Linked DNA regions of Homo sapiens. The protein of the gene in region 2 interacts with the protein of the main gene of each other region in a pairwise test. Each region holds a gene or a part of one and is shown on either strand. Other genes may lie near its edges. The genes, in order: AGPS, PEX7, PHYH and ACOX2.

The links.
Region 1: the proteins of PEX7 (region 2) and AGPS come close enough for resonance energy transfer, tested with the Homo sapiens proteins (one large-scale study listed by BioGRID).
Region 3: the proteins of PEX7 (region 2) and PHYH interact in a two-hybrid assay, tested with the Homo sapiens proteins (2 studies listed by BioGRID, with this or other methods).
Region 4: the proteins of PEX7 (region 2) and ACOX2 come close enough for resonance energy transfer, tested with the Homo sapiens proteins (one large-scale study listed by BioGRID).

What each region holds. Positions count from the first base shown.
Region 1 is NC_000002.12:177,538,911-177,543,774, reverse strand, and holds part of AGPS (alkyldihydroxyacetonephosphate synthase, peroxisomal precursor), read right to left. Parts: 3' UTR 1-4,864. UniProt on the Homo sapiens protein: Catalyzes the exchange of the acyl chain in acyl-dihydroxyacetonephosphate (acyl-DHAP) for a long chain fatty alcohol, yielding the first ether linked intermediate, i.e. alkyl-dihydroxyacetonephosphate (alkyl-DHAP), in the pathway of ether lipid biosynthesis.
Region 2 is NC_000006.12:136,870,490-136,875,353, reverse strand, and holds part of PEX7 (peroxisomal biogenesis factor 7), read right to left. Parts: intron 3,157-4,864; coding exon 3,101-3,156; intron 1-3,100. UniProt on the Homo sapiens protein: Receptor required for the peroxisomal import of proteins containing a C-terminal PTS2-type peroxisomal targeting signal. Specifically binds to cargo proteins containing a PTS2 peroxisomal targeting signal in the cytosol.
Region 3 is NC_000010.11:13,292,693-13,297,556, forward strand, and holds part of PHYH (phytanoyl-CoA dioxygenase, peroxisomal isoform a precursor), read right to left. Parts: intron 2,915-4,864; coding exon 2,804-2,914; intron 1,905-2,803; coding exon 1,736-1,904; intron 1-1,735. UniProt on the Homo sapiens protein: Catalyzes the 2-hydroxylation of not only racemic phytanoyl-CoA and the isomers of 3-methylhexadecanoyl-CoA, but also a variety of other mono-branched 3-methylacyl-CoA esters (with a chain length of at least seven carbon atoms) and straight-chain acyl-CoA esters (with a chain length longer than four carbon atoms).
Region 4 is NC_000003.12:58,523,329-58,528,192, forward strand, and holds part of ACOX2 (peroxisomal acyl-coenzyme A oxidase 2), read right to left. Parts: intron 3,329-4,864; coding exon 3,138-3,328; intron 1,278-3,137; coding exon 1,098-1,277; intron 1-1,097. UniProt on the Homo sapiens protein: Oxidizes the CoA esters of the bile acid intermediates di- and tri-hydroxycholestanoic acids. Capable of oxidizing short as well as long chain 2-methyl branched fatty acids.

The DNA.
Region 1 (4,864 bases), on a different chromosome or scaffold from region 2:
CTTATAGAACAATACAGTCTAAGAAAACCAGTAAGAGGAGAATCTGAACACACACTGAAAGCACGGAATACTGACTATGTGTTGAGCCCTTGTGGAAAACAGTATGGCTCAGTCGGAATTGACAAAGCTATGCTGGAATCTCTCAGGAATTTTCCTTCCCACTGCATATCCCCTTTTAGACTATAAATGTAAAGAGAAGAATTGTTTGTATGCATTAGTTACAGCAGTATAATGGCTTACATACAAGTGCTTACTCACATGTAGTTCCCAAAGGATTACTACAGTCCTGGCAGGAATATGTACTGCCTTGGAGGAAGACTCAGGATAAGATATTATTCAAGTTAAGTTGTATCAGAGCCAAAGTATTTCACAGGCTTAGCAAAAATGGACAAGAATTAATATAACCTACATATATTTCTCATAAGATTTAATCATTGTCCAGAACAGAAATATTCGTTATTCTGAAGGCACCATCACACGAAAAAGGACTGACACACAATATTAGGAATAGAAACCACCCGCACTCCCCAGCTCCACAGGTTCTGCTCCTCAGGGAGCCTGTGAGCAAACATCCAGAAAGAATGTAGTGAGTGTCTTGAGGCTCAATGCCAAACCCACCAAGCCACAACTTAGGGCTACTAGGTTGGGGCAGTAGGAATGAAAATGTAGGAAGGAAAAGCACATACAAATCCCATTGACTGATTCGATGTGTATCAGAGTACAGGTCCACCATACAATTAGTTAAATATACTAGAACAGATTATCCAAAACAACACTGTGGAAAGAATTACCAGTGTTTCCACATATAACTGCTTAATTCCTGACATGTTCTTGAAGAGGAATAGTCTTGAACTGCTGAATGACCTCTGTCTAAAGACTTACCCTCTCCCACTCATTTAAAATAATGGCTAGTTCATGGAAAAAAAAAATCCCAACAAGGCACTGTGAGCTTTTGGGGATATAGTATAAGTAGCTCAAAAAATAACTACTTATAGAAACTTGTATGCCAGTATGAGCATTTCATGTCCTTTTCTGATATGTGAACAAGATTAAAGGAAAAACATGTTTCCTAGGGTGCATATGGTGTTCAGGAAAAACACTGCCAACAAAAGGTTGTCTTAAAAACATGTATATATGTTGCTTAGAAATCCACCATGAAACAGATTTTTTTCCTTTTCTTTCTCACTCAGATTTGGAATTCAGAGTCTCTGCAAGATGTTTTTCCTTGTGGAAAAATAAATAATCTCCTTTGGAAACCAAAAAAGAAATCTTTTCATGTTCACAGAACTAAAGTTACTAAATTCTGTGATGGTTCTTTGGCTTGAGGGTTCTATATGTCAGTGGTCCTTACTCTGATTTGTTAAGGAATTAATTATGATTAGAAGAGCACAAGAGTGCTCACTCTTTGAGGATCTTCCAAGGTTCAAAAGGGAGTGCTTCAGGTTCATAGGAGTCTCAAAGCCTCCTGGGAATACAGCATTGATTTTAAAAAATGATTAGGGATTGACAAAACCTAGCTAACAATATCCTCAGCTATAAATCCAAAGAGATTTAGTCACAAGTAGGTTGCACTTGATTTTGCACTTGATTATGCTACAAGCAACAAAATTATAAAAATAAATTTTGTGTTTTCAAATCAGTGGAAATATGAACATGAAAAACTAAAACTAAAAGAAAAACTCATATGCAAATAAAAGAATAAACAGCTTCACACTCCCTTTGAAGAAAAAAAATATTAGACCCAGGTCCATTTTATTAATAATATGATCTATAATCTCTTGACATTACAAGTAGTTTTTACAGTTAAATTTCACACTGAAGACAAACACTGTTTGGCTTAGGGAGCAGAAAGCTGAGTAACTTACATCCTTTATATCAGACACTATATTTTAACAGTTTAAGAAAACCTTTTACACTTTCTGGATTTAAGCATCAATATGTAAGTTGTTTCCTTTACAGGAAACTGAAATTAGTAAGAATTAAGTGAATATACTGACAGATGGCTCATTTGGGAACATGAAGCCTAGAGCAAAGCCAAGCTTCTATAACTCATAAAGTCAAAGGTAAAACATTCTGGATTCTTCAAACCTAAATGGGCACTTGTTATTTTCCACTTTTCTTCAACCATGAGCTAAGCCCTAACTAAAATCAAAGTTGATAAAGATTAAGTGGTAAACAAAAAAATTATTAAAGCTGTCCTTAACTCCTGTCTGAGTGTTTTTTAAGATATAGATATGCTTTCCACAGCATTCCATTTTGGCTGCCTCAAGCACCAGCACATGCAGTTTGTGAATCAATCTGTAGTAACTGTGTTCTAGCATTTATACAGAATGGAAGTTCAACCAAACCCAGCCCCATATGAACAGCCAAGGGAACACACTTCAGTGTAGGACTACAGAGCTTCTCTGATAAGCTACAGTTAAGTTGTAGCTATAAAGGAATATGACAAAGGAAAGTCTGGGTGCTAACATGCAGAAAGGCATTTTCAAAAATGCAAGCTAGGACTTAGCAGTTACTAATAGACTATTCTAGTGGGGGAAAAGGTTTCCTTGCAACCATCTGTATCTGGTATACCATACACACCGATGGAAGCTCATCCTTTATTGCAATTTTGTTTTCAAAATACATCAACACAGGCAAACTAGAAGGCTCCCAACTTCATAAATAACTTTTAAGTAATAGTACTACAATATGTAAGCACTTTTAGGAAGAAAACTCCTACTTCCTTAGAAGAAATAATATAATCCTCTTTTCTTTGTGTAAAATGATGGGCACAATAAACATGTGGTTTCCACAATTCTTACTAAGCTAAAAACAGCTCAAAGTTACTTATCATAAGACTAAATTCACTTATGCACTACTAGAAATTGCACCAAACATTAAGGCAACAGTTTCTCTAAGGGTCTATAAAGCCTGTTCATATTGAGTCTTTAGTATTCAATGCCATTTCTCACTAGCGGCAAGTTACTATTCCCACTGAAACCCCAACCCAAATGTGACATTACCAAATTTAAGTAAATTATTGCAACTATGACTAATTTAAGAAAGTCAGTGTTATGCAGTACTGAAAACCAAATAGGCAACAAGTTTTTGAAATTAAAAATAAACATTAAAAATGAGTTAAGAAGTGTCATGTAAACAGTGTTCTCCTGACTTAACTTTTATGAAGCCATTTTCAGATATTATAGAAATAAGAGGCATGGTTTAAGTGCTTCTGTGCATATTCATGAACTCAGTCCTTCACAGATACCAAGTCTATACTGAGGCACCTCCCAGAAGGTATGTGAAAGTGGGGGCTGGGGGTAGGGGGAGGCTTTCTGATTTACTAAATCAGAGTGAAACAGTACTGATCAATATTCTTGTGTTTCAAAATGATTTCGGTAGAAATGATTCCACCTACAAAATGCAGTCACCATTATAAAATCAAGGTTGGGGAGTCCTGCATATACTTGGAAAAAGAAAAACAAAGACATAAATCATGAATTTCCATAAGGTTCATGTAGAATAGTGAACATAATAATTTCAGGTGTTACATTTACAGTTTCCTAATATCAAGTATGGATTTCTGAGGTTGCTGAAATTGAACTCCCTGGGAAAGAATGTTATAACAATCACATGCAAAGGAATGGATCTTCTTATTAACCTGTTTTATTTTTTAAAAATTACTCAGAAACATATACATATATATATATATATATATACACACACACACATGCATACATATATATATATATATATATATACTTCCAGTGAGACATTAGTACCTTAATTTTATATTTTGATCACCAATTAAAGAAATTACCTTCGTGAACAGATGCATTTTATAAAGCTGAGATTTTTATAATTCTAGAGGCAACTTCCTCATCAAGTGTCCAACTAGGTCAAATATCAAGGGCTTAAAGCAAAGATCTGTTGGAAATTTTATAATTAAAAATAAATGACCAATGAAGAGAGGCAGCTTCTAAAAAATAAATATTTCATTTTGTTGTTAAACTGATATTTAATTCTAATTTAATTACAGATTTATTAGTTTGAGGCCAATTTTAATAGTTAAAAATTATTTATCATTTTGAAGTCTTAAAAATATCATTTTGTCAATTTTAAATTACCATTTTTCTGGTTAAGGCTACTTCAGATATAAAAGGTATCAAACTGCCCAAAAATACTTTGGAGCTGTTGCTACATACACAGACAATGCATCCTTTTAAAGGATCGTCTGCATTTTGACTTACATTATCTGATCAAATATTAGTTTTAAAAAATTATCAAAAGTTAGGTATTGCATTAAGAAAAGAATCCATCTCAAAATGTGAATCATGAACCTTGGCAGACAGTGATTCAAAGTAATCATTTCACTTTAATATCCAGGTTTGAATGTACAAATGCTTGCTAAATGTGATTAATGTTCTCATTATTTAAGAAACAGGATATTTCAAACTTTTGATTATGGTATATGCATTAATACATTACATTTAAAAAAAATTAGGTTAAACCAGTTATTCAAAAAAGGCATTAAACCATTATTAAAAACTAAATTGAAACTTTACTTTTTATATGAAAATTTATCATGCCATTGGGATTAATTTTAAAAAATCAAAAATGATTTTTGTCATTGAAACTGCTGAGGCTTTCAAATTCAGTAGTTGAATGATGACTGTTTCTTTAGTGAAACAATTCTTGCAATTGGAGACATTAAGTCTAAGAGTTTTCCTTCTGCTCTTGCTGTAGCTGTTTCTTCTGCATTTCAGCAACAAGAATGTGAAATCAGAAACATTAGGACTCTAAGTTGAATAAAGGCATTCATTTCATGGTAAACCTGTTCTTCACTTGCAATGAAGGATGTCAGCTTTTCTTACAAAACATA
Region 2 (4,864 bases):
AAACATTATATATCAGAATCTATGGGCTATAGTTTGAATAATAACCAGAAAAAAATTTATAGCCTTAAATACTTTAACAAAATGAAAGAATAAAAATAAATTCCTATCTCAAGAAGCTGAAAAAAAGAACAACAAAAAGAAAGTACCAAAAAGGAAATAATAAAAATAAAAGCAGTGATTAATAAAAAAAAAAAGTTCTTTTTTTTTCTTTTTTGAGACAGAGTTTTGCTCTTGTTGCCCAGGCTGGAGTGCAATGGCACGATCTCGGCTCACTGCAACTTCTGCCACCTGGGTTCAAGCAATTCTCCTGCCTCAGCCTCCCCAGTAGCAGGGATTACAGGCATGTGCCACCACGCCCAGCTAATTTTGTATTTTTAGTAGAGACGGGGTTTCACCATGTTGGTCAGGCTGGTCTTGAACTCCTGACCTCAGGTGATCCACCCGCCTCAGCCTCCCAAAGTGCTGGGATTACACGCATGAGCTACTGCACCCAGCTGAAAAAAGTAGTTCTAATTGATAAATTAAAATTCTGCCTGCTGAAGAAAAATAACAAAATAAACATACCACTAGATATTCAAAGAACTTATTAAAGATACAAAATCAGAAATAACAAGAGTAAAACAACCAATGAAAGAGAAGAAATCCTACAACATTCCTTTATAGACTTTTTTTTTTTTTTTTTTTTGAGGCAAAGTCTCACTCTGTCACCCAGGCTGGAGTGCAGTGGTATGATTTTAGCTCACTGCAATCTCTGCCTTCTGGGTTCAAGCAATTCCACCTCAGCCTCCCAAGTAGCTGGGATTACAGGCACCTGCCATCATGCGTGGCTAATTTTTCTATTTTTAGTAGAGACAGGGTTTCACCATGTTGGCCAGGCTGGTCTTGAACCCTTAACCTCAGGTGATCTGCCCACCTTGGCCTCCCAAAGTGCTGGGAATACAGGCATGAGCCACTGTGTCCACCCACTTTACAGACACCTCTACGAATAAATTTGAAAACCTAAAAGCAAGGGACAATTTCCAAACTTGATCCCGTTAGAGATACAAAGTTTAAACAGACTCACTTCCATGAAAGAAATGAAGTTATCAAGAAAGTACTCCACAAAAAGCACCATGCTCCACTAGTTTTGCAGAGCAATCCTACAAAGGATTCAAAGACCAAATAGCCTCAATGCTGTACAAGTTGTTCCAGAGCTTTGGAAACAAAGGAAAATTTCTTAATTCTTTTTATGAAGCAAGTAAAACACAGACACATTAAACAAAACGAGAAAAGAAAGAAAACTGCAACTAATATCACCTTTGAATATTGACGCAAAAGCTTTAAATAAAATATTAGCAAACACAATTCAACACCATGGTGAGAAAATGATACACAAAGAACGTGAGAGACTTACTCCAGGAATGCAAGGTTGGTTCAATCCATTAATATAATACATCATAGCCATATCTCTAAGAAGAAAAATCATGATTATCTCCATAAATGCTGGGAAAAAAAGCCTTCAACAAAACTTAAGACCCATTCCTAATTAAAAAAACTCAAGAAAATAGGAATTCATGCATACTTTCTTAGTATGACAAACAAGTAAACATATATAATTTGCATTAAAGTCAGAATCTTATTTTTAATAGAGAAACACTAAAGGCGTTTGTACTCATATCAGGAATCAGACATTCTCTATAAACTATTTAGCACTGTATTAGTGGTATTTGTGGAGGGAATTTTAAGAAAAATCAATTAGAGGCATCAGAATTGGAAATGAAGGTGTAGAACCACCTTTATTTGCAGGTGATAAGATCATACATCTGGAAAACCTTAATGAATCAATGATCTTTAGAAGGCAGAGAAACAGGTACTCTCAAACATTGCTACTGAGTATCAAAATTGGCATATTCCTTATGGATGGGAATTTGGTAATATCTAACAAAACTACATATGTTTACCTTTTAACTCAGCAATCCCACTTCTAGGAATACCAGACATTAATTCTCTAGTAACACAAAGCTATCATTCACTGTGGCACTGTTTATTTACAAAACATTGAAAACAAGCTAAATGTCCATAGATAGGAGGGTAGCCAAATAAACTATAGCACATCCACACAATGGTGTATTATGCAGAATGAGAATGATCTCTTTGATACAGAATGATTTCCAGGATATATTTTAGTGAAAATCCTGGAAACCTTTCTGAATATATCTTTATGTACATCTTGACTTTTGAAACCATGTCAATGTTTTGCCTAGACAAAATCAACAAGGATGGGAGGAAAACCCTAAAATTGAATACAAACAGAAACAAAGGAATCAAACCATGTTTCAAGTGAATAACATAACCACACTCTAACAGAGAAGAGGAGAATTAACCTAAGTAACTTCTGAATATAGTATTCAAACTAAAGACAAAAAAAACTCTAAGCAAGTGCTGAGCTCTAATTAGTAAGATTGTTTTTTTCAAAGGTATGGCTTTGCAATTCTGAACTACTTTCTAAGCATTACAGGGTTTAACACATAAGAAAATATATTGTGAATAAAATGGAAGTCAAGAGTTACAAATTTGGAAAGGGAAAATAAATCCTCTGTGGTATGGAACTGTAACTGGAAGTATAAATAGAGACCCACACCCACACACACTCTTATCTAGATATCCATGCACATATATACACATACATGTTCATATATCTACATTCACAAAAAATCATACACTCATGTTCATTGTTTTTTCATCTAAGCAATCTTAGCCTTACGACTCATATAATTAGACCTGAAGAAATGCAATTTCCAAATTTCTATATCTAAATTTAGAATATATTGGCTATGCCATCTATAGTGTAGGAAAGTGTTACCATAGGAACATCTATTAGAAAAGATGGCTTTTAAACAGAATAGCCAGGCTAATATTTGAAGAGAAAAAATTTACTCATATATGTGACTGGATCACGAAAACAGGAAAAATATAATATTAATCCTAGTAAATATTTAAATGTACCCATCTCAGATTATTTTCATGTTAGTAAGAGTAATCATATTATCTCTTATAAAAGTTGCAAAGATGCAAATGTTACCTGGTATTTCACAATGAAATGTATTAAAAACCACTGTACCTTACAGTAAAATCATACGAGCAAGAGGCCAGCACAGAAGCATGAAATGGTGAAAACTACAAAAAAAAAAAGAAAAAAAAAACCCTTTTTGAAGTCAGCTGTGATTATAACACTGCTTTCTATGATCATTCCATAAACATTATAATAAATTTAAGTTGAGTCAGAGCTGTCACTTAAAATTATGCTTTTTCAAAGCATATATGCTATAATTTGAGGCAAAAATCTTCTGGCCTTATAAGTATCCATCTTCAGGAAAAATATTTTTACATTCTCCAAAGAAAATTATCCCTCAAGCTTTTTAGAACTTATTTAGAATAAAATATTCCCAAAATGTTGCTATTCTGGAAAAATTAAATACAATTTCATATTGGCTATCCAAAAATGATTCTTACAGGCCAGATGCAGCAGCTCACACCTGTAATCCCAGCACCTTGGGAGGCTCAGGAGGGCAGATCACCTCAGGTCAGGAGCTCGAGACCAGCCTGGCCAACATGGTGAAACCCCGCCTGTACTAAAAATACAAAAGTTAGATGGGCATGGTGGCACATATGCCTATAATCTCAGCTTCTGGGGAAGCTGAAGCAGGTGAATTGCTTTAACCCAGAAGGTGGAGGTTGCAGTGAGCCGAGATCATGCCACTGCACTCCAGCCCCGGCGACAGAGAGAGACTCTGGCTCAAAAAAAGCAAAAGCAAACAAAGTAATAAACAAAAATGATTCTTACAAATATAAGGGATTTAAGTATATAAGAGTACAAATATATAATTATATAATTTACCAATTTTACAAATATATGATTGCTATAATCACGTTATCAAAATAAACATTTAAATGTTAAATAAAAACACCCTTAAGTTATTTTTACGTTATTTGTATATTACAGCTAATGGAAAATTATATCAAGGGTAAAAAGCAAGTTTAAAGACAAGTAACGTCTTCTAGATGAGTAATAATGTACTTAATAAGTTGACCTTTGCAATTACATTTCTTCAGTGTTTGTCTTATCGCACTTTAATAGTTAAATACACATATATAACTACATTTGACCAGCACTTAGTTTGCAAAGTACTTTCACTACATTACCTTATTTCATTCTCATAATCACTCTAAAATATACATAGAGCATATTTTTCAACTGCTAAAACTTGTCCAATTAAACAAATTTATTAAAAAATAAAACAGAGCACTGTGTCTCCTATGTTGCATTGCAGCCAGAGAAACTTAAAATATTAACTTAACTAAAAATTTAGAATTTTTGGCCAGGCACAGTGACTCAGCCTGTAATCCCAGCACTGTGGAAGGCTAAGGCAGGCAGATCACTTGAGGTCAGGAGTTCAAGACCAGCCTGGCCAACACTGTGAAACCCTGTCTCCACTAAAAATACAAAAAAATTAGCCGGGCATGGTGGTGCACACCTGTAGTCCCAGCTACTCAGTAGGCTGAGGCAGGAGAACAGCTTGAACCCAGAAGGCAGAGGTTGCAGTGAGCTGAGATCGTGTCTGGGTGACAGGGCAAGACTCCATCTCAAAAAAAAAGAAAAAAAAATTTAGAATTTTTTAAATAGTAGGAATAACATAATTACCTTATTAAAATAATCAATAAGGTACTTTTTTATCCTTAACGTAAAAAAACAAAAGGATGAAATTGGGAGATGTCACTTAATAAGATGTTTTCCACAGTCATTTAGCAGAACCTGCCTAAATATAAAAGCCAGGAAACCAACCTAAGTCATCTTATAACCCAGATAAATTTACTGAGACCATCA
Region 3 (4,864 bases), on a different chromosome or scaffold from region 2:
GTGGCCGAGGCGGGCGGATCACTTGAGGTCAGGAGTTCAAAACCAGCTTGGCCAACATGGCAAAACCATATCTCTACTAAAAATACAAAAATTCGCCGGGCATGGTGGCACACGTCGGTAATCCCAGCTACTTGGGAAGCTGAGGCAGGAGAATCACTTGAACCCAGGAGGCAGAGGTTGCAGTGAGCTGAGATCATACCACTGCAGTCCAGCCTGGGCAACAAGAGTGAGACTCTGTCTCAAAAAAAAAAAAAAAAAAGAAGAAGAAGAAGAAAATAAAACAACCCATGATATTCAAATTTTGATTCTGCAAAAAAAAGACTCCAAAAAATAAGCCACCTTCTACTGCTTCCTCACTTTTTGATCTCTTGTGTATAAGGAATATTGGCAATTTGAGTATGAAACCCTGGAAAGGTTATTAAAAGCCTAGCAGTCAGGCACACACTTGCTTTTTATAAAGCCTGGTATTTTTTTGTATTCATCTAGGCTGGGATTTTCTAAATGCCAGCCATTCAAGAGCCATCCTCACAACTTCTGACATAACTTGTACTGTTATTTAGCCAATGATTTCCCTACCCTTAGTTAGCTCACTTGTTTTTTGTTTTTTGTTTTTGTTTTTGTTTTTTTTGAGATGGAGTCTCGCTCTGTTGCCCAGGCTAGGTGCAATGACATGATCTCGGCTCACTGCAACCTCTGCCTCCCGGGTTTAAGCGATTCTCCTGCCTCAGCCTACTGAGTAGTTGGGATTACAGGCGCCCGCCACCATGCCCAGCTAATTTTTGTATTTTTAGTAGAGACTGGGTTTCACCATGTGTCTCAGGCTGGTCTCAAACTTCTGACCTCGTGATCTGCCCACCTCGGCCTCCCAAAGTGCTGGGATTACAGGCATGAGCCACCGCGCCCGGCAGTTAGCTCACTTCTCTTATTCAATCTTTGTTTTTTTCTTTTTTTCCAATATAGACAATGGTCTCACTATGTTGCCAGACTGGTCTTGAACACCTGGCCTCAAGTGATTCTCCTGTTTCAGCCTTCCAAAGTGCCACTTCGCCTGGCCTTTTTATTTAATCTTGTCCTAATTAACAACATTTTTGAAATCATGAGTTTGGTAGACTGTTGAGTTTTTTTCCAATACATTTAAAAATAAATATCTATTAAAATAATTTATACCTCCTAAAATCATGGCATAGACCACCAGATACTGGTCCCATTCTTCAGAAATGTAGGACACTGGCCAGGCGCAGTGACTCATGCCTGTAATCCCAGCACTTTGGGAGGCCGAGGTGGGTGGATCACGAGGTCAGAAGTTCGAGACCAGCCTGAGCAATATGGTGAAACCCTTTCTCTACTAAAAATACAAAAATTAGCCAGGTGTGGTGGCAGGCACCTGTAAACCTAGCTACTTGGGAGGCTGGGGCAGGATAATCACTTGAACCTGGGAGGAAGAGGTTGCAGTGAGCCGAGATCGCACCACTGCACTCCAGCGTGGGCAACAGAGCGAGACTCTGTCTCCAGAAAAGAAAACAAAATAAAACCCACTGATTTTACTCAATTCAACTCCTTTCCATATCCAGCTCTAAGAGCAGTGGTTCCTGGGATCAAGCGATCCACCTGCCTCAGCCTCCCACAGTGCTCGGATTACAGGAGTGAGCCACTGCGCCCGGCCAAATCAGCGGGTTTTACAGGCAGACATACACACTGGCAATTAAGCCGACGCAAAGCAAGGGTGGTCTCTGACCTCGGGGAGAGTGCAGTATCTGAAGAGCTCCTTATCTTCCTGGAAATCCTGGACCTTCGTGATCATCTTCTCACTTGGAGCATATTCGGATTTCGAAATGGTCACATCTCTCATTACTGTTAATCCTAATGGTTTCACCTCCTTTCTGCAGATTTTTTCAAACTCATTCCTAGAAAATTTAATTTGCAAATGATGTCGTTACCGCTGGCTCCAAGCACCTGCCCTGCCCTCCTCTGTGGAAAGGGTTGCAGACTTGAGGGGTGGTTTCTCTGCACTAAGTTGGCCTCCAGCTTGAGGTAGAATAATTCCAATGAAAGGGAGGAGAAACTGTCTGGCTAGAATCCATTCCCAGAATTAAATTATTCCCTAGTTTAGCATACCAGTAGGGAAGTCTTTTTATAATTTGGTTACATTGTAATAATAATAACAGCAAACATTTCTGTAACACTTACCATGTGCCCAGCTCTCTTCAAAGTGGTTTCCATATATTTCACCGTATTTAGTCCTAATAACAACACTAGGACATAAGTGCTATTATTATCCCCATTTTACAGATGAGGAAACAGAGGCATGGGATGTGAAGTAAATTGCCCCAGGACACATGATATTAAGTGGTGGAGCTGAGACTGAAGCCCAGGCATGGTGGCTCCCGACTGTAATCCCAGCAACTCAGGAGGGTGAGGCCAGGAGTTCAAGACCAGCCTGGGCAACATAGTGAGACTCCCTGTCTCTAAAAACAAAGAAATAAAAAATTAGCTGGGTATGGTGGTGCACAACTGTGGTCCCAGCTACTCAGGAGGCTGAGGCAAGAGGATTGCTTGAGCCCAGGAACTTGAGGCCGCAGTAAGCTATGATCGCACCACTGCACTCAGCCTACACAACAGAGTGAGAACCTTTCTCTATAAAAAATAAAAAGCCAGTCTGGCACCAGAGCCCATGCTTCTAAACACTTCCCAACAAACCAAATCATTAAAAAACATCTGTAAAGCCAGGAGCGAATCCACCTTGTATTCTCATTACATGCACACAATACATACTATTGTAAAATAACAAATAGTGTTACTGTACCGAAAGCGTTGAATATCGGCATCAGGTACAAGATTTTTGATTACTAGAAACCCATTTTCTTCATAAAATTTTCTCTGTTCCAGGGTTAGAACGTTATTATCCAGAGTATACCTAAAGGAGAAAAAGAATCCCAAAATAAGTTACATTTTTAAATTACAGGCTAGGCACAATGGCTCACACCTCTAATACTAGCACTTTAGCGGGCCGAGGCAAGTGGATCACTTGAGGTCAGGAGTTTGAGACTAGCCCAGGCAACATGATGAAACCCTGTCTCTACAAAAAATACTGGTTGTGCCACTCCACTCCAGCATGGGCGACAGAGTGAGACCCTGTCTCAAAAAAAAAAAAAAAATTTAAATTACATCCTAAAAATATGTATCAAGAACCTGAGGCTAGGCGTGGGGGCTCATGCCTATAATCCCAGCACTTTGGGAGGCCGAGGCAGGTGGATCGCCTGAGGTCAGGAGTCTGAGACGAACCTGACCAACATGGTGAAACCCCATGTTTACTGAAAACACAAAGTTTAGCCAGGCATGGTAGTGGGCACCTGTAATCCCAGCTACCCGGGAGGTTGAGGCAGGAAAATCGCTTGAACTTGGGAGGCGGAGGTTGCAGTGAGCTCTGATCATGGCACTGCACTCCAGCCTGGGCGACAGAGCCAGACTCCGTCTCAAAAAACAAAAACAAAGACAAAAACAAGAACCTAGGAAACGTTCATGCTCTTCAATTCAGCATTTCTAAGACCAAGGAAATAATCTGAAAACTTACGCTTTATGTCACCAAAACAAGTGCATTAGTGGGCCGGGCACAGTGGCTCATGCCTGTAATCCCAGCTTTTTGGGAGGCTGAGGCAGGTGGATCACCTGAGGTCGGGAGTTCGAGACCAGCCTGACTCACATGATGAAACCCCATCTCTACTAAAAATACAAAAATTAGCGTGCCTGTAATCCCAGCTACTCAAGAGGATGAGGCAGGAGAATCGCTAGAACCTGTGGGGGTGGAGATTGCAGTGAGCCAGGATTGCACCAGTGCACTCCAGCCTGGGTGACAGAGCAAGGCTCCATCTCAGAAAAAAAAAAAAAAAAAAAAGTGCATTAGTGGAAGAAAAATTAACTAGTGACACTATGTTCACTCAGTGGAATATGACTCAGACATTAAAAATTAAGGCCATATAATAGTATGGATGGCGGGCACAGTGGCTCATGCCTGTAATCCTAGCTTTGGGAGGCTGAGGTGGGCGGATCACGAGGTCAGATCGGGACCATCCTGGCTAACACGGTGAAACCCGCCTCTACTAAAAATGCAAAAAATTAGCCCGGCATGGTGTCTGGCGCCTGTAGTCCAGCTACTGGAGAGGCTGAGGCAGGAGAATGGCGTGAACCCGGGAGGCGGAGCTTGCAGTGAAGCAAGATGGCACCACTGCACTCCAGCCTGGGCGACAGAGCCAGACTCGGTCTCAAAATAAAATAAAATATAATAAAATATAATAAAATAAAAAATAGTATGGACAATGCTTATTATAATAAAATATTATTACAATTATGTAAAACCAAGACACTATATGAAAAAAAGAAAAGCCTGCAAAGAAATACACCAAAGCAATTTTTAACAGTGATTGCCTTTAGAAATGGAATTAGGGATGATTTTTTAAAATTCCTTCTATTTCTCTGATGTTTCTGTAATGAATACATATGATTTTTCAGATGGGAAACAAATTCAATAAATTGTATATTTTTAACTGTCCAGTTGATGCATTCCAAGAAGGTAAAGTAACAAAATCCAAATAAATGTACAGCATACCCATAAACTCAAATCACCCAACCTATTCCTTAAGATCGGAATTGTGGTTGTATGAGAATATTTAGGAAGGTCAAGATCTTCCCCTTTAAAGGTGATTTAAGATAAACCAAAGATGCTAGCTAATATGTCCATATAACCAAATACAAGCTAATTTGTTTTGTTTTGTTTTGTTTTTTGAGATGGAGTCTGGCTCTATCACCCAGGCTGGAGTTCAGTGGCGTGATCTCAGCTCACTGCAACCTTGACTTCCAAGGTTCAAGC
Region 4 (4,864 bases), on a different chromosome or scaffold from region 2:
CCCTCCTCAAATCTCCCAATTGAAATGTTAGCTCTATGAGTTTGGGGTGTTTATCAGGCCTATTTACTGATAGGTCCCTAATGCCTAGAACAGTGCCTGCCATATTATAGGCAGTTAATAAATATTTTTGGAATAAATAAATGAATGTTCCAAGTTGCTTGTGATCTTGAAATAACTATTAACCATCCCTGGGACCACAGGTTGGGATATAAGACCTCTTATTATATACTGAAAATATGTTTTTCCAGTTTGTTTTTGGTGTTTCCTTTTTATTTTTTTATTAAAATTTTTTGTATTTTTGGTAGAGGTGGGGTTTCACCATGTTGCCGAAGCTGGTCTCAAACTCCTGAGCTCAAGCAATCCGCCCACCTCGACCTCCCAAAGTGCTGGAATTACTGGTGTCAGCCACCATGCCCAGCCTGTTTTCGGTGTTTTAATTTGGGGGCAGCATTCAGAACGTTTTCTTTTTAGGTAGTTAAACCTCCATCTTTTCCATGGTGGTATGTGTGTTTGGTCAGGACCTCTCTATTCCCAGCCCCTGGCACATTTGTTCATTCCTAACACATAGTAGGTACTGAACAATATTTGTTGAATGACAGAATGGATGAGTCCTTGGTTTTGTCCATGTTCCCTGGAGCCTACTAGACCCTGGAAATAAATGAATTCTATCCCGTGGTGTAGTCATATTTTCAAAAATTATTTTTAGATTATGGGATATTTCAAACGTACGAGTGAGTATTGCTTTATTTATTGGTATTTGCATATCAATACATTTGGAGTATTTACATATGGGTACATTCGTTGTATTGCAAATCACCATAGGACCCTAGAGATTTTAAAAATATCTCACTGGCCAGAGGTGTGATGTCCTTCTACTACTGTGACCAGGATGGGGAAGTGACGGGGGTCCATGGCTGATGGGGGGGACATCCCCTCTCTCTGCCCATGGTGGCAGGAACTGAGAGGACCGGGGAGGCTAGGCATGGGGTGGTTTTTAGAACTGAATCCACGAATGTCCACCCAACCAATCCAAAGGCCCTAGTGTGGCATGGAGCCTGTGCCCAGGTGGGATGGCTGATTTCTCAGCACTGGCTTACCTTACTGCCACATGTGCCCAGGCCGTGGTGTAGAGCTCCGGGCAGAGGAAGTCGGCTGCCCTCTGGGCTGGACACCTGGCCAGGTCAGGTGCGGTGAGATATGCGACAGATGGAGAGAGAGATCTCTGTGGCGTGGAGCCAGGGGACATCTGAGTCTGCAGGTAGCTCTTCACCAGGAACCTGGGGGTTGGAAGAGGAGGCAGGTGAGAGGGCAGAGACTCTGTGAGACAGCCCAGCACCCCTCACTCCCAGAGACAGGCAAGCTCATGCTAGGTTCCAGCCTTCCCGTGGGAGAGCCAGGTCACCAGGCCTCTGCCTGGCCTCCCTCCTGAGGGTTCCCCCTCGGGCCGTCCTGCCTCGAGGCCCTCAGTCAGGCATATCCCAGGACCTGTGGAGCTGGGCCAGACACTCTCTGATCCTGAACATAAACCCTTCTGTGATCTGAGCAAACAGAATTTTCCATCAGAACACTGTGATTTTGGGATTTATAATGACTTGTACAGTGACTGGGTGGAAATTAAATTTTCTTAGCTGAAAAAAGAAGGATAGAGGCAAGAATGCTAACAGGAGTAGGAGGATTATAGGTGACTCTCAACTGCTGCTTTAGGATAATCCAGTGGTTACAGGTTCTGGGCTTAGACAGCCCTGGATTCCCATACAGCCTCGCCGAGACCTGTGTGATGAAAGAAGCTTCACCTCCCAAGTCTCTGTTTCTCTAGCTCTAGGTGGGGAGGACAGTTCTCATCTGATTGAGGGTTTGTGAAATGGAATGAGATGATATTTGTAGAGTGCTTGGCACAGTGCAGAGTACATAATATGTGCTATTGTACTCCTTTTCTAATTTGGAAAAAAACCAAGGGATGTTATATATTTTTAAAAATATAATAAATGTTGTTTTTCATATTTGCCAGTGAACTTCTTTCTCCTTGCATAGGGAAGCATTTGCCCTGTTTGTTCACCTGAGAATAGGTGAGGATGAGGCTCTGTCGGCCTCCAGGGCCCACAGACCTAAGAGGGATGAAAAGAAATCGCCTGTGTGGAGGAAGCTGACTTGGCCATTGCTTGGAGCCTCTGTGTGCAGGCTCTGCACCAAGCTTAGGCGATGCTAAAGCGAGCAAGGTAGGGGTAGTCCCTGCCCTCAGGGAGCTCCTAATCTAGTTGGAGAGTAGAGCTAAAAAGGTGAACAAAAAAATGAGACAATGATAGATTGTGAAACTGCTCCAAAGGAAACAAGGCCATGTTGGGTGGGAGGGGATCAAATGCAAAGGCCTCCTGGACAGAAAGAAGTGTGTGGCCGGCAGAAGTGAGCAGAGGTGGCTGGGTGCGGTGGCTTGTGCCTGTAATCCCAGCACTTTGGGAGGCTAAGGCAGGTGGATCACCTGAGGTCAGGAGTTGGAGAGCAGCCTGGCCAACATGGTGAAACCCCATCTCTACTAAAAATACAAAAATTAGATGGGCATGGTGGTGTGTAATCCCAGCTACTGCGGAGGCTAAGGCAGGAGAATTGCTTGAACCCGGCGGGCAGAGGTTGCAGTGAGCCGAGATTGCACCACTGCACTCCAGCCTGGGTGACAGTGAGACTCCATCTCAAAAAAAAAAAGAAGAAGAAGAAGTGAGCAGAGGCAGGAGGTGGTGAGAGCAGGATGGACGGGGAGGCAGGGGTCAGGTCACATGGACCTTGCAGGCCACAGCATAGAATATGTCATTTTCCTATGAGCACTGGGAAGCCGTTGAAGAATTTCAAACCAGAGAAAGATGTGATCCTCCCTAGGCTCTGAACAGATCCCTCCGGCTGCCTGTGGAGAAGCAGGACAGGATAGAAGCAAGAGACCAGGGAGGGGTCTGAGGCTGTGGTGGAGGTGAGAGAGGATGGTGGCCTAGAAGTGGATAGGTTAGTCATACTGGGGAATTGGACAGCTCCCAAATAGCACTTCGCAAAGCCTGCTCTTTTTATGGGCCTCAGACGGAACCCTCCACCCAACAGAAGCTTGGTGGGTCCCCAAGGGCTTGGGCAAAGGCCTGGGTCAGCCTGGACCTTACCTGGCCACCTGCAGGTAGAGCACTGTGTTCTCACCCTCGTAGGTACAGGAGGCCGACAATTTGGTGACCAGTGATGGCAGGCCACTCAGCTTTGAGTAGCCATGTCCGCCACAGGCCCTGCGGCACATCTCAGCTCCCTGGGTGCAGAATTCTGACATCATGGCCTTCATGCCCGTGCTCAGTGCGTGGAGCTGTGAGAACATGGAGGGGGGTTGGGCGGTGTTAGGGGGCCTCCACCATAGGGACCAACCCTGTGCACCACTTACTGAGCATCTACTCATGCCCAGCTCAGCTCTGAGGTAAGAAGTGTTTCCTCTGCTCACAACTTTATGAATGAGAAGGCGGGTACTCAGCTTATGTGACTCACCCAGAGGCACACAATTAGGCAATGTAGCTGTAGGGGCATAAGAGTGAAGGAAAACCTGGCCTGGCCAGTGTCTCCAGGATTGGGAAGAGGGTGCTGCCTGGATTGGGCCCACAAACCTCCAGGAGTTACGGATTTTGCTGGCCTGGGTTTTAGAAAGCTAGCTTATGAGGATGGGTGTCCACTGTAAGCCCACTTACTGGGTTGTAGGAGGGTGACAGGGTCTGAATGTGTCCACCTAAAATTCTTATGTAGAAATCCTAACCCTCAAGGGTTAGGGCTAGGATTAGGAGGTATTGATGATTAGGACTAGGATTAGGAGGTATTATGATGGTAGTAGGAGTTGGGGCCTTCAGGAGGTAATTAAGTCATGAGGGTGGAGGCCTCATGAATGGGATCAGTGCCCTCATGAAAGAGGCTGCTTCTGGCTGGGTGTGGTGGCTCACACCTGCAATCCCAGCACTTTGGGAGGCCAAGGCAGGTGGATCACGAGGTCAGGAGATCGAGGCCATCCTGGCCAACATAGTGAAACCCCGTCTCTACTAAAAATACAAAAATTAGCTGGGCGTGGTGGCGTGCACTTGTAGTCCCAGCTACACAGGAGGCTGAGGCAGGAGAATCTCTTGAACCTGGGAGGCGGAGGTTGCAGTGAGCCAAGATTGTACCACTGCACTCCAGCCTGGGTGACAGAGTGAGACTGTCTCAGGAAAAAAAAAAAAAAGAAAGAAAGAGGCTGCTTCTACCATTTGAGGACACAGCAAAAAGCCGTTCAGGAAGCAGGCCCTCACCTGACACCAAATGCACTAGTGCCTTGACCTTGGACTTCCCAGCCTCCAGAACTGTGAGCAATAAATTTGTTTGTTTTTCTTTTTTGAGACAGCGTCTCACTCTGCTGCTCAGGCTGGACTGGAGTGCAGTGGCACAATCACAGCTCACTGCATCCTTGCACTCCTGGGCTCAAGGAATCCTCCCACCTCAGCCTCCAAAGTAGTAGTTGGGACTACAGGTGTGTGCTACCACACCTGACTAATTTTTCATTTTTTTTTTTTTTTGTGGAGACGGGGGTCTCACCATCTTGCTCAGGCTGGTCTTGTCTTGAACTCCTGGGCTCAAGCAATCCTCCTGCCCTGGCCTCCCAAAGTGCTGAGATTACAGGTGTAAGTCACCATGCCAGGCCAATTTCTGTTGTTTATAAACCACTGCTTTATGGTATTTTGTTACAGTGGCCCCAACAGGACAGAGGCTGCTGGGCAGCAGGACTGCTTTCAGATTTTGGTTCTTGAAGACCCTGCCTATCTTTGGAGCTTTCAAGTCCTTGGGAGGAAAGTTATGTCCCTTGATCTCTCTGTGCCTCATTGCAGTT